2 linked regions of the Homo sapiens genome follow. The protein of the gene in region 2 interacts with the protein of the main gene of each other region in a pairwise test. Each region holds a gene or a part of one and is shown on either strand. Other genes may lie near its edges.

Region 1 (8,054 bases), on a different chromosome or scaffold from region 2:
CCGAGTGCCACGCCCAGGGAGCCCGAAAACCATTTCGTGGGTGGCGCCGAGGCCAGTGCTCCGGGTGAGGCTGGGAGGCCGCTGAATTCCACGTCCAAAGCCCAGGGGCCCGAGAGCAGCCCAGCAGTGCCCTCCGCGAGCAGCGGCACAGCCGGCCCCGGGAATTATGTCCACCCACTCACAGGGCGGCTGCTTGATCCCAGCTCCCCGCTGGCCCTGGCACTCTCCGCAAGGGACCGAGCCATGAAGGAGTCTCAACAGGGACCCAAAGGGGAGGCCCCCAAGGCCGACCTCAACAAACCTCTTTACATTGATACCAAAATGCGGCCCAGCCTGGATGCCGGCTTCCCTACGGTCACCAGGCAGAACACCCGGGGACCCCTGAGGCGGCAGGAGACGGAGAACAAGTACGAGACCGACCTGGGCCGAGACCGGAAAGGCGATGACAAGAAGAACATGCTGATCGACATCATGGACACGTCCCAGCAGAAGTCGGCTGGCCTGCTGATGGTGCACACCGTGGACGCCACTAAGCTGGACAACGCCCTGCAGGAAGAGGACGAGAAGGCAGAGGTGGAGATGAAGCCAGACAGCTCGCCGTCCGAGGTGCCAGAAGGTGTTTCCGAAACCGAAGGTGCTTTACAGATCTCCGCTGCCCCCGAGCCCACCACCGTGCCCGGCAGAACCATCGTCGCGGTGGGCTCCATGGAAGAGGCGGTGATTTTGCCATTCCGCATCCCTCCTCCCCCTCTGGCATCCGTGGACTTGGATGAGGATTTTATTTTTACAGAGCCATTGCCTCCTCCCCTGGAATTTGCAAATAGTTTTGATATCCCCGATGACCGGGCAGCTTCTGTCCCGGCTCTCTCAGACTTAGTGAAGCAGAAGAAAAGCGACACCCCTCAGTCCCCTTCGTTGAACTCCAGCCAACCAACCAACTCTGCAGACAGCAAGAAGCCAGCCAGTCTTTCAAACTGTCTGCCTGCCTCATTCCTGCCACCCCCTGAAAGCTTTGACGCCGTCGCCGACTCTGGGATCGAGGAGGTGGACAGCCGGAGTAGCAGCGACCACCACCTCGAGACGACCAGCACTATCTCCACCGTGTCTAGCATCTCCACCCTGTCTTCCGAAGGTGGAGAGAATGTGGACACCTGCACAGTCTATGCAGATGGGCAAGCATTTATGGTTGACAAACCCCCAGTACCTCCTAAGCCAAAAATGAAGCCCATCATTCACAAAAGCAATGCACTTTATCAAGACGCGCTCGTGGAAGAAGATGTAGATAGCTTTGTTATCCCCCCGCCCGCTCCCCCGCCCCCGCCGGGCAGTGCCCAGCCTGGGATGGCCAAGGTTCTCCAGCCAAGGACCTCCAAGTTGTGGGGCGACGTCACAGAGATCAAAAGCCCGATTCTCTCAGGCCCAAAGGCAAACGTTATTAGTGAATTGAACTCTATCCTACAGCAAATGAACCGAGAGAAATTGGCAAAGCCGGGGGAAGGACTGGATTCACCAATGGGAGCCAAGTCCGCCAGCCTCGCTCCAAGGTAAGTCCGCGGTTGGTGCACATGCACACCGCTCTGCGTGCACTGTCCCTGCTGACCAGGAAAGGCCCTCGGGTAGCAGCCCCAGCGGACACGAAGAGGGGAATTCGTAAAGCCTGTGTGGGCCACGTCTGTTAATGCAGTAACACTTCTTTTTCTCATGCTCCTGGACTCCGGGATAGCCGAGTAATGATCACAGCCATCCTGGTGGGACACAGCACTCCTTCATAAAGACTTGTAATGAAATGAGGTTGCTGGAAGCCCTCCTCACCTTGGCTTCCAAAGAGAAGCTCTACTCTCTCTTCTGTGCCCTCCAGATCTCTGCCAGGACCACCTAGAAGGCCGTTTAGAGCCTCGCCAAAGCCCAAACCAAGCTTCGAGTTGGTTGCAGGAGACTAGCTGCCCCAAGAGGGCAGCGAGTGGGTGGGCGGTGGGTGCAGGTGTCTGAATACACGTGTGGGTTCTTCTTCCCCTCCCATCACTACCAGGTTTGCGGGCTTGGGAGGCACAGGGTCATGGCTGTACTGGTGAACTCTAAGTGCAGTACATTCTTCCCTGCCAGCCCATCCTGTCCCAGGGGCAGAAGCCTCTAGCTGTGTCCATGTCAGCCCTTCACAGTATTGTGCAGGGTTTACATTATTTCCATTGGAACTGAACGTAGAATAAGTCAGGAGTCATTTCTAGACGCAACCAGAGGGCTCTATCTGAGGCTGTCTGGAAGGAGCCTATATTTGATCATTCTTGCACTGCTATAAAGAAATAGCTGAGACTGGGTAATTTATAAAAAAATGAGGTTTAATTGGCTCGAGTTCTGCAGGCTATATGGGAAGCATGATGTTGGCTTCTGCTTGGCTTCTGGAGAAGCCTCAAGAAACTTTCAGTGATCACCAAAGGGGGAGCAAGAGGGAGTCGGGGGAGGTACCACAGTCTATTTAAACAACCTGATCTCATGAGAGCTCACTATGTACAGTAGCCAGGGAAGATGGTGCTAAACCGTTCATGAGAACTCCCCCACCATGATCTGATCACCTCCCACCAGGCACCTCCTCCAACACTGGAGACTACAATTTCACATATGAGATTTGGGTGGGAACACAGATCCAAACCGTATCAGGGCTCAGCAGTCTGTGGCTTTGGGGAGCCCCATTGGCTCCCGTGATGGCTTATGGTTCTTGGTTCTCCTTCCCTGTGGTGTGCACCATTTTGCTGTTCCCCAGGTGGCAGCATCTTCAGTCTCTCCCACTGATATTTGATCTTGGGTTTCATCATTTTGACTAATGAAGCCTCTCTCCATACCCCTGCTGGGCAGGCATTTGATTTAAGCCACTCAGTGCATTAATCAGTGACATCACATACAGCTGGGGCTCAAGATGCAGACTGAGAGCCCCAATTTTCCCAGTTATTTTTCAGTGTGGATGTAAATAAATGACTTGGATGTCATCTATTACTCTAAAGGAGTATCGATAGGCTGGCATTGGTATAGAGAAGCACAGTTACACTGCAGACATTCAGACAGTGCCTCCAGTCAAGGAGAAAGTCTAAGAATTATGTACGTATACACCTACAAGTACACTCAACAGCCTCCAGGAATTTTGAGAAAGGGTGTTGCTTTGCCGCTCAGGCTGGAGTGCTGTGACGTGATCACGGCTCATTGCAGCCTTGCAGCCTAGACCTCCTGGGCTTAAGCAATCCTCACACCTCACCTAGCCTCCTGAGTAGCTAGGACAATAGACGCATGCCACCACACCCAGCTATTTTTTTTTTTTTTTTTTTTTTTTTTGGTAGAGATGAGGTCTCACCATGTGTCCCAGGCTGGTCTCGAACTCCTGGGCTCAAACGAACCACTCACCTCAGCCTCCCAAAGTGCTGGGATTGCAGGCATGAGTCACTGCACTGGGCCAAAAATCTGAAAAACTGACTAGTTTAACCCTTCCCCATTACATACTAATGTGGCTCTTCCGTCATTACTCTATGTGGAAGCAATAATTAAAGAGGCCTTATCTTAGTGTTTCACATTTTTACAAAACACTTTCTCATGGGTGGGTAATTTTTATGACAACTGGGGAGCAGGTATGAGTCACACCCATTTTTCAGAGGATAAGTGGCTTGTCCACATACACAGCCAGCAGGAGGCAGAGCTGGGACACAGGCTGGGGTTTCCTGACTCTCACTTCCCCTTGTAAGCAATGTCTGCAGTAAGGAAGGAGCTGGAAGGGAATGGCTCTAGGGCTGGAGGAAGGAATCCACTGTTCAGGTCAGCAGGGCATCCTGCACCAAGCTGTGCTCCCCTGAGCACTCCACTCGGGGAGTCCAGGGACCCCGTCCATGGAGACCTCTCCCTGAGTGGCAGCTGGACAGCTCATCCCCTCTACTCGTCTTCAGGCTGGGCCAGCTCCTGGGGTGCCCACAGGGGAGTGGGACCCCAACTTGCAGCGTCTCTAGGGTTTCTCTGCCCTGCATTTCTCCAGGGGGACCCTGAGAGGGGGCTGGCTCAAAGCAGACTTCATAGGGCAGAATCCTGCTGTACTCTGAAGGAGAGCAGCTGCATACCACCGCCGACCCACGCGTGAGTGCCAAGAACGGCCGCCTCCCAGCTGTCCTGTTATTTATAGCCCGGCTCTCTTACAGTAAGAACAGGAGCCCACACCTATGACACAAAGCATTCACCAAACGCCAGGCACTACATTCCACGGCACCCCTGAGCCAGGGCCTGTAATTTTTCCCACTGTGTGAACAAGGAAGCAGAAGGCAGGGCGGTGAAGCTACTGAGCCGAGGCTACTTCACAGGAAGACGCGGAACTAGACCTCCAACCCATGGAGCTGGCTCAGGGTTTGACTCCTCACCTTGTGGGAGCCAGGGACTGCCTTGGAAGGAATGACCAACTGGCAAACCGAACACCTGCAAGGCTGAGACTGCCGCGGGCGGGGCTGCTCTCAGGCCTCTGACTGTCCTTAGGCCAAGCTCTTTGGTCAGCAAGAGGCTAATAGCAGGCTTAGTCACTAGGAGGTCACCCTGCGGCCGATAACAGCAGGCTTAGTCACTAGGGGTTCACTGGCACTGCCAAGCTCCCAGAGGCCATGTCTGTTCCCTTCTTGCTCCCGGCCAAGGGTTACACTTTACACTCAGAGTTGGACTAGAAACAGGATGGCCTGAGGCCAGAGGACAAAGATGAAGAGCATTCACTGTAGGCACTAAACTAGGCTCAATCCTCTCCCTCGCCCTTGCTTCTCGGATCTAATAACCTCACCAGGCTGAGCACTTGGGACAAAGCCCCCATGGAGGTGCGCCACGGCCACGGGACACACTGACAAGGACAAGTGGGGGGCAGTCAGAACCACCACTGGGGGGGGGTCCAGGACGGAGTTGCCAGGGCACCAGAGCTGTCCCCCTTGCCGTGAGGGCTGTCTCCTCTCAGCCACAGACCTATCTCTCAGCATGTCTCCTTTGCTGGGCGTGGTCTTCACTGATGGGCCCTGGGCATTTGATCATCTGAGGATCAGAGGGAGCCTTAAGAACTCTCACCTGAGTTCACCGCCTGGGCGACTCACCACCACCTTTAAATGCATCTAAAAATTAAGAGCTGTGAATGGCCCTGGGCAAAATGAGGCACGAAATTGGATGAAGGGAATTCCTACCGAGGAAAAAGAAATGAGTTTTTCTAGGGAAAATTGAAAACCAGCCATGCTTTTTGAAATGACAGATAAGCAGTGGTGTAAAAATCCCATTTCCATAGAAACAAGTTTTGACTGCCCAAGAAAGGGACAATTTTTAGAGCTGTTCCTCAAATGTTCATTCATGAAATGGGCAGAAACCTCAGCTGAACTTGACCCTTTTAAAGTTCCTCTCATCCTTGGATTCTTCCTTTCTTTTCACTTCTTGCAAGAATCCAGGATGGGATCAAAGGAAGCAGCTGAAGATTAAACAACTAGATCCTTGTTTTCCTTGGGTATGTTTGATTTAACTTTAGCCGTGAATGAGTCTCTGATGCTCAAAGCTCTTCCCTGAAATCAAGGATGACATGGAATTTGCAGGCGTCTTAATTACAAATACGCCGACGAAAGGAAGATGATGAAGTAGTTCTCTTTAGTACATAATGTTAAAAGAGAAAAAAGTACATCATATTAGAGGCATCTCCCAGGGTGATCTGAAAACACCCTGCCAAGAATGGAGGCGTCAGTTCTAAGAAAAGTGTTCCAGGACCACCTGGCCTGATTATTCCAGGAGGTAGTCTCATCTTTGATCTCAAACTGGATCAAAGTGAAGGAAACTGGTTTGGGGAAGGAAGAGTGAGTGTGTCTCTGTGAAGAGTCAGTGGTCCCTCCTCAGCAGAATGCCAAGACAACAGCTGCCAGCCCAGAGGCCTGACAGTGCTGCACGCTGGGGGTCCCAGCACAGGAGCCTGGGGCTGCAAAAGCTCAGAGCCGGAAGCTCCTCAGGTGCAGGCCTAGGAGACTGACTGGACACTCAGACTTGGAATCATGGCCCAGCCCCACTGTCTCCTGAATTCACCAGTCAGGAGTTCACTGAGCTACTTTCTATAAGCCTAGTGCCAGGCTGAGGCTAGAGAGTAACGAGGAATACACCAACAAGGATGCCTGGACCCTCAGAATGGGGCAGCAATTCCGTCACTAATCATTCACTCAACAAAGTTAGGGATTGCCTTTATGTGCCAGGTGCCATGCTGTGCCCAGGATTTATCACTGAACAAGAAAACATTCCAGATGCCCCTCCCTTTGGGGAGCTCAAATTCTCGAGGGGAGAAATGGACAACAAATAATAAGACAAACCCAAACTGTGACAAATGCCACAAAGGAGCCACAACATGCTAATAGGTTAGTGACCAGTGCAGAAAGGGGCTGTGATGCACCAGCAGGTAAAAATAACCACGTGCAGAAGAGAGCCACGGGACACCAGCAGGTTAACCCTGACCACATGCAGAAAGGGCGGACTAGGATGCCCTAGCAGGTTACAGTGAGCATGTGCAGAAAGGGACTGACACTCTGCAAGGAAATGACATTTGAATGACCAGAAATTTAAAAAGGAGCCAACCTTGCAGAAAACCAGGAGTGGAGCATCCCAGGCACGGGACAGAGAGTACAAGGCCCTGAGGCCAGAAAGTGCCTTCTGTGCTCATGAAACCATGGCCAGATGAGGAGGGCTGGGCAGGGCCAGGTCACAAGAGGCTTGCAGGTAATGGGCATGAGCTGAATGGAGTTCCAGATATGGCTGCCTTCAGAGGGCTTCAGCAAAGTCTTGGCATGACCAGACTTTGTTTCCTGAAGATGGCCCAGGCAGCTGTGTGATCAGGTGAATGCACTGGTGGCACAGGGAGGCTGCTGTGGGAGTGTAGGGCCTGCATTCTGGAGACAAGCAGGGAGACTCAAGGGCTAAGTGCCTAAGGAACCCAGGAGAACACAGCAGCTTGCCTGACTTATATGCTTTGACCCAAAACAAACTTGCTATGACCCAGGAGCCCCAGGTGTCATGTGCCCTCCAGCTTTATTGAGAGATACTGACACATACCAGGCGCCGATAGTAAAGCCAGATAAATCTGATGTTCTTTACCATCGCTTCCATGGCAGAGGTCAGCTTCACATTTGCTCTGTATGTGGGGGCAACAGAGCAGTGAGTGTGTGCTTGTGGGGGTCCCCCATGGCTTCTGTTAGGGTGCATGGCCTATAAGAGTTCCCCAGAGTCCCCTCTAGGTCGCCAGCCCTTTGCAGTGGGTGGGGTCCAGAAGGGACCTCGAGATTGGCCTTCGCTTCCCCATGGGATGGATGGGCTTCAGGGAGATTTGTCCTGTGAAACTCCAGGTCCCAGAGGCCCCTGAGGGAGTTCAGGCTACCTGGGATGTGAGCTCAGGCGAGTTTTCCTCCCGAGGCCCCTGCGCCTGCTGCCTCACGGTACCTGCCTCCCCTTCCCAAGGCCTCCAGTCCCTACTGGGCTCTCTGCAGTATTATCCTGACAGCCTCTTGATTTTCAAATAACTTTGGGTTGTTAAAAAGTTATCTCTGCCCAGCTGGTCCCAGAGCACAGACTGCTTCAAAACTGACTTGGTACTAGAAGCTGCCTCACGGTGTTTTCAGCATCTCAGGACCACTAGGTGGTTTGAGGGTTTCCAGGCCCTGATGGAAAAGTGAATGTGACATCAGTGAATGCGACTGTGGGTGGCTGGGAGCACTAGTCAGGATGTGCGTCCATCGGGGCTGGTACTTGCGGGCGTTGGGCAAGGATGAATGGGAGTGCCTCGTCCTTGCCCATCAACAGGCAAATCTCAAGTCAGAATCTTCCTCCCCATTTTGGACATGAGGCCCTTTTGGCAAAAGCATATCACAGGGTTAATCTCTCTTCCCAAGAGGTGGGCACCTTCTTGATCTTAGCTGCGAACCTCCTGGCCTGAAGACCTGGATTCCTGGTGGAACTGCCGCGGAGCCTCAGGCTGCCTGCCCCACTCCCAGGTCTGGCTCTGTAACTCGGTCAAGTCACTTAACTTTCTGATCTGGGAAAAGGAT
Region 2 (6,769 bases):
TAAATGAATGAGAAGAATTAGCTGACCCAGTGTGGCCCAGAAAAGCAGCCAATCCTGAAGGCTTTTCCTCCTGCCTGGAGGTGACACACCAACCCAAAGGACTGCTCAAGGAGTGGAAAGGGGCTTTCTGGGTGGAGACTGCCATCAGCCCTCTCTGGTCTAAGAAGCCTGCAAAGCTAAAAGCTCATGATTTGGCATTAGACCTGGGTCCACCACATTTAGTCCTGTGACCTCAGACAGGTCTTGTAACCTGCCCTGAGCTTTGGCTTTCTCTTCTATTGTAAGGACCAGCCACATTCATGTAAAGCACTCACCCCTTGCCTGACCCACACTGACCACTCAATAAAGCCATCGATACTAGGTTCTGGTTGCCATTTAGCTTCCCAGGAGAGCTCTGTTCTTTGTACTTCCTCTTCCCCCACCCCAGCCTCCACCAAGGTGGCCACCCATAGGAGGCATCAGAAAATGCGGCAGGACTGAAGATTTTCTGCTGCTGATCAGGAATGACTGGAGCAGAAGGAACATTGTGCCCCTAGGGGAAGGGAAACCAATTATTTGTCAATACCTAACAATAACCACACTCCCGGTTTATTGAGCACATGCTGCGTGCCCGGCGAGCTCCGGACTTCCCTCTCTGGGGGAACCCTGCGGACTGGGAGGCAGAACGGGATACACCGAAATAGGAAGAACGGAGAGCTTGGCACCCTCCCCCTCTTCACCCCACCTGGGCCCCTCCAGGAGGGTCCAGGCCCTTACTGTGGGCATCAGGGGGCCGAATCTCCTTTCCACCAGCTGGCCCATCCCTGGAAGGAGCTCAGGCAACCCCTGCTATCTCCAAACCAAGAGAGTGGGCTCCCGGTCCCTTCTCCCTTCACCCCCGTCCTCCCACACACGGGACGGAGGTGGCCTCTTCTGGAGAGAGCAGCTGGCTCGAGTGCAGTTCTGCCGTTTTATTTTTCCTGGGATATTCAAGGGGATGTGGGAACAGCCACAGGTGTGGTGAGGGGAAGCCCCCATCTCCCCTCCCCAGCCGCTGGGAAAGGGGAGAGGCCCAGGCGCCCTGGTCCTGGGTTGGTCCAGCCACTGTGGTCCCTGGGCCCAGTGGGCAGAGGGCTGAGGATGGAGCCCCTGGGAGGGTGGGGCGGGCTCCTAGGCAGGGTTCGGGATTCTTCATAAAAAGCCACGAAGCTTGATCCCCACGAAGCCCAGCCCCGCGGGGTGGGGGAGGGGGGGACGCAGAGCCCAGATGAGGGACCCGGCCCGGCCTGGCCCGTGGGGGAAAGAATGGCAGAGATGGTGCCCATGGGGAGGAGGTGGGGACAAAGCGTCGGACCAGGTGGGCAGGGGATCCAGGTGAGGGGCGCAGGGCGGAGAGGCACGGCCCCCTGCCCAGCCCGGGCGCCTTCGCGTGGGATCAGGAAGGTAAAAAACCCACGAGAGTGTGACGGGCCCGGGGGCCGGGGCGTCCGGTGCCGGTGGGGCGGGCGCACGGGGCGGCCCGCGTTCACAGTGACCTCGACGCTGGGTGTACAGTACGGGTGGAGAACCGCGGGCCCGGGCCGGGCTGGGCGGGCCGGACCGGTCACAGCCTGGTCTGGGCCTCGGGGATGTAGATCTCGATGCTGTCGGCGCTCTCGGTGGCCGAGCTGTGGCGGAAGGAAGCGGCGCGCTTGGCCGCCAGGAGCCGCTTGCGCGCTTCCTGCCGCTGCCGGTCCACGGAGTCCAGGGAGCGCTCCTTCACCGGCACGCCCCGGCCCCGCAGGGGCTTCTTTGGTATCGGCGGAGGGACCTTCTTCTCCTCCTGCGGGGCAGAGGGCGTCGCTGAGCTGGGGCGCCGAACCATCCCAACACCCAGGTGTCCGCCCCCGCACCCCCGCGCCCAGAGTGCTGACGACCGCGTGGCTCCGAACGCGATGGCGCTCAGAATCCGCCACGGATCCCGTGACCTGAAGCCCCAGGTGCTCCTGTTCCGACAAGGTCAAATCCCCACATTTTCCACCAAAGCGCGGCGCGTTCGAGCGCCCCCTGGTGGCGCCGTTCTCAACAGCTCGCAGCAGAGCCGGTTTTTCACTCCGGGTCCCGACCCGAAGGAGGGAGTTCCCGACCCAGGCTCCGCAATGAGGGTGCACATACCAGGCCTCTGGCCCTCATCGCAGACAAGGTCCAGGGACCTGGCGGCTGAGGGGACCCTCAAGGCTCTGCCGTCGATGCCTAGGCCCGAACTGAGGACAGTCTGTCCTTCCGTAAGGTCTACTTTTGCTCTCTCCAGCTGCAGCCGCCGCCACCCCCCCAACCCCGCTCCCCCGCGCTGAGGAAGCCTTGGGGTTCTGGCAGCTCAAGCAGTGATGAGCACTGGGGCCAAGCAGACGGCAGTGGCCACGAGCGTGGTCACTCTGGAAGGGGATGGTCACCTATCACCTGTCCAAGGCTGCCCTTGCTGCCCATGGATCCCTTCCCCTGCCCCCTTGTTCGTCCCACCCTCCACCTCTCTGGGGAGGGGAATTTCCCAGAGTCTGGCCTCTTTGCCTGAAGGCACCCCAGCCCCACCTTAGGCTCCAGGAGTTTCCAGCTGTTGGCCTTGAGTTGCTGTAGCTCCAGGAACTTGAGGGTCACATCCTCGATGGAGAGCTGTAGGAGGTCCCAGAAACCCGCCAGGTCCTGGAAGGTGGGCACAGGGAACGCAGTGGGATCCTGCAACAGAGGAAGATGGAGGGAAAGTGATTGGTCAAGGAGGTCTGAGCCCCAGCCAGGACAAGAGAAAGTCCTATCCACCCTTACTGCCAGGAAGCTCAGCCTGGGAGAGTGGGTGGGGGCTGGGAGACAGGGGGACAAGAGCGAGCCCAGGACTCCCCTTCTTGTGCACAAACACCTGGTCCTACCTCCAGGCACAAGACTCACAGCTACCCCAGAAGGCATGCAGGCCTGGTCTCACCTCTGGTACACACTCACTCTGGGTCACCTGCCTGTCTCACCTCCAGCACACACACACTCTGGGTCACATGTATCTGGTAGGATCTACTACTATGGGCACTCACCATGCTTTGCTGACACAGCCGGAAGAACTGCTGAACCTTCTGGGACAGGAGAAGTTGTGTGCTGCCCACAGCACTGCGGATCTTCTCCAGGACTAGAAAGCAGAAGGAAATTCAGGGAGGGAAATGATGCATCTCCTTCCCCAGCCTCCACGAAGTCTGCCCTGAATGACGCTGACCCCTCGGTTGCTTGGCACTGTGTATCCATCAGTCTCCTCCAGCCCCAGCCCCATCCCATCCTCAAGTTCCTAACAAGTTCTCGCTCCACTACACCAAGACTGTATCCTCAGACACTGATGTTCCCTCCTTCATACAGCCTACATTTCTTGAGTGCTCATCCTTCTTTATCCTTTCTCCCTCCCGTATCAGAGAACAGACGGAAACCAGCCCCAGCCTAGCCCTATAGCCTTGGCCAGGGCATTAGCTCAATGACCACCCACTGGCTAAGCTTTGTTCATCACTCCCCAGTGCATGCAAGACTCCTTGGCTCTTTAAGAATGACCAAGTAATTTCATGTACATAACACATCTTCATAGCCACTGTCCCCTCAACTCAGAGATTCTGGGGTAAGACTGTGTCTCCCAGTGGATCTGACTTACAGGAAGGGCCATGCTCTCCCTCGGGCCAGGGCCACATCTCCCTGGCTGAATCTCCCTCTTCTGTGCCTCAGACAGGATCTGACATTGTGAACTGCCTCCCTCTCTGTAATCTTGGTCGCACCACCTGGATCCCCACACCAGTCCAGATCTGAACGGAGTTCCCTTAGTCCCCATAAACTTGGTGATTTGGACTAGCAGCCATCCATAGAAGGCCCAGCCCTTTGGCCTGCAGTGTCTGCAGTCCCAGCCCTGGCCTCTAAAGCTGCACCATGTGCACCCTGCTCCCTTTCAAGAGCTCCCAGCATGTCTTGCTGCCGATGTTGACCCGCCACGCTCCAGTGCAGAAGACCAGTGAGGCACCAACCGAAGGGGCCTCCTGTTACACTGCAGCCCCAGCCACCCCCATCAGGGTCTCCTGAGCACACACGAGGCCATGGTCCCCAGAGTCCCCTTGTTCCGATGCCGTGACTCACTCTCCTCGGGTAGCTCATAGTCCTCCGCCTCACGCTCCATCTGCTGGCACCAGTGCTCCAGCTTCTCCACCTCTGCCCGCAGCATCTTGATGAACCACTCGCCGTCGCGTGGGCAGGGGGATGCGCGGCCTGAGTCGGGGAGGCTACGTGAACCGCGCTCTATCCAGGAGTCACGGCGGCCGGCCCCAGGGCCGGGGGTGGGGGCGGGGGCAGGGCCGGGCGACCCATCGGTGGCCGGCGGCTCGTACGGCAGTGGGTAGCCCTCGCGGTAGGCCCACTGGCCCTGCGTGTGGACCGTGCGGAAGACTGAGTAGGTGGGGGCCCGGGGCCCAGGCTGGGGCTCAGAGGCGTGCCTCTGGAAGGAGCGTCCAAACTGCAGGGCCTTGTCTTCTGTGGCCACCGTGGCCAGGCCTGCCAGGCCCTCCAGCTCCAGGTCTGCCTGCACGCCAGCCGTCACACTATTGGAGCGCTTGAACCTTGCTCGCCTGGGGAGAGGGGTGGCTGTCATCCCCCATTGCCCAGGCTCATGCCAGCTCTCACCCCCACCCCAAGCAAAAAAAAGGAAGGGAATGAGAAAGGGAACCTACAAAGTGATGGACATTAACCTATGCACTTTAAATATATTGGTCCTTGCAACAGCTACGTACATAATATACCTACCTATTGCACTGCCTCTAGATAGGGGTGATATCCAAGCTATTTAGCAACCAGTTCAGTCCATGGACAGAGCAGATGCTGGCATATACCAGGCAGAGCAGGCACAGACCAAAATGCTGCAGCAGTGCCCTGGAGAGGCTAGATTGTGGGGTGGGCTAGAGGGGTCAGGGAGGAGCCAGGGTGGTGGCTCTTTACCAGTGAAGGCAGAAGATATTTCAATTTTTTTTTTTTTTTTTTTTTTTTTGGAGATGGAGTTTTGCTCTTGTTGCCCAGGCTGGAGTGCAATGGCGCGATCTCGGCTCACCGCAACCTCCGCCTCCCGGGTTCAAGCGATTCTCCTGCTTCAGCCTCCCGAGTAACTGGGATTACAGGCATGCGCCTTTTGTCTCTTTTTGGAAGAGACAGGGTTTCTCCATGTTGGTCAGGCTGGTCTCGAACTCCCGACCTCAGGTTATCCACCCGCCTTGGCCTCCCAACGTGCTGGGATTACAGGTGTGAGCCACCACGCCTGGCCGAAGTATTTCAATATTTTAACAAATTCTATGTCTATGCTAGTTTACACCAGCTGCACTAGAGTGTCCTCAGCTCTACCTAGAGATGAGTAAACTAAGTAAACCCAGCTTCAAAGTAGCAGAGCCAGGATTTGGACTCAGCGCTGCTGGGCTCCACAGTCCAAGCACTTCCCACTGCACCAGCTGCTAGAACATCACAGGAAGAAATGCCTTGGAGCAGCTGGAGGTGGAGTGGGCCTGCAGCTGGGAGGACTTCTCTAGGGACCCCGATGGCTCAGCCCAGAGCCTGGCCAGACACAGTAAGTCAGTGCCAGTGGAGCTGAATTAAGTTGTTTGCAGGAATGACATAGGGCCTGGAAATTTCTTGTCTTTGAGTTAATAATATGCAAATCTTATGCAAACCAAAAAGTCAACTGGCCGTTTTCATTTTTTCCCTGAATTCAGAGTTCTTTTCTATAAAGAAGTCAGTGGCCGCTTAAGATGCATGAGGTTGGGACCAGGCAATACTTTAAGAAGTGGGAGTCAGGAGATGTGGGAGGTGGGGGATAAACAGAAGATCAAGGTTTGGAAATTCAAGGACCACAAAAGAAAAGCCTGTGTGTCCTGAGCTACCTCCACCCCTACATGGTCAGAAGGGATTGTGGGCCCAGCTCTAGGGTCCCTCCACCTCCCCAAGAGACTCTCCCAACCCCCGCAACTTCAGCCTTTCTCTTGCTGCCCAGGCCTTCTCTCCCTGCCTGCCTGCCTACTTCTCTCCAGCTGGCAGGCTGCCTGCTGGGAGCCTGTTGCCATAGAAACCAGGCCCAGAAGGATGCTGCAGGACCCAGGAAGGAGAGATGCACTCATGTGCAGTCTCCAACGAGCCCTATGTCCCAACCCCCACCCAGAGAGGGAGAAGGAGAGAGAACATATCCTCATTGCCTCCCACACAGTCTTCCCCTCAGTGTCTGCCCTGTCCTGCCCTGGTCAAGGTTTGCATCACCATCTGCCCTGATGATTAGACTGGCCTCCTTTCAGATACCTCTGCCTCCATCAGTACCCTGCAGAGGAAGAGCACGGGGCCAGGAGTTAGCTCTGAGTTCTAATGCTGGCTTTCTCACTGTGTGCCTTTGTCACTCACCCTCCATCTAGGTCATCCAATGTGTATGTGTGTATGTATTTAAAATATATGTATTAGATATAAATATACACACATATACATCTAAAAATACACACATATATACAATTATAGAAATAGATAAGTAATTGCCAAGGTAGTTCCTCTCTCTAAAATTATATTTTGCATATTTTAAGATCTGGGGCCCTCCCCAGTCCACCCAAGACTGGAATAGTCTTCCTAAAGCTGAGCTCTGCCAAGTCATTCCCCTGCTCAAAACCCTTCCACAGCCCCCTACTACCAACAAGACAAAGTTCAGACTTCCTGTACCAGCATTATCTGAGGCCCTGATGTCCTGGACACAGTCCTCCTCTTCAACCTCATCTCCCCCACATTCTCC

What was found. The genes of interacting proteins can lie anywhere in the genome.
Region 1: the proteins of DLGAP3 (region 2) and SHANK2 interact in a two-hybrid assay, tested with the Homo sapiens proteins (one study listed by BioGRID).

The regions. Positions count from the first base shown.
Region 1 is NC_000011.10:70,478,804-70,486,857, reverse strand, and holds part of SHANK2 (SH3 and multiple ankyrin repeat domains protein 2), read left to right. Parts: coding exon 1-1,544; intron 1,545-8,054. UniProt on the Homo sapiens protein: Seems to be an adapter protein in the postsynaptic density (PSD) of excitatory synapses that interconnects receptors of the postsynaptic membrane including NMDA-type and metabotropic glutamate receptors, and the actin-based cytoskeleton.
Region 2 is NC_000001.11:34,864,501-34,871,269, forward strand, and holds the end of DLGAP3 (disks large-associated protein 3), read right to left. Parts: intron 4,590-6,769; coding exon 4,105-4,589; intron 3,128-4,104; coding exon 3,036-3,127; intron 2,692-3,035; coding exon 2,548-2,691; intron 1,802-2,547; coding exon 1,583-1,801; 3' UTR 936-1,582; downstream 1-935. UniProt on the Homo sapiens protein: May play a role in the molecular organization of synapses and neuronal cell signaling. Could be an adapter protein linking ion channel to the subsynaptic cytoskeleton. May induce enrichment of PSD-95/SAP90 at the plasma membrane.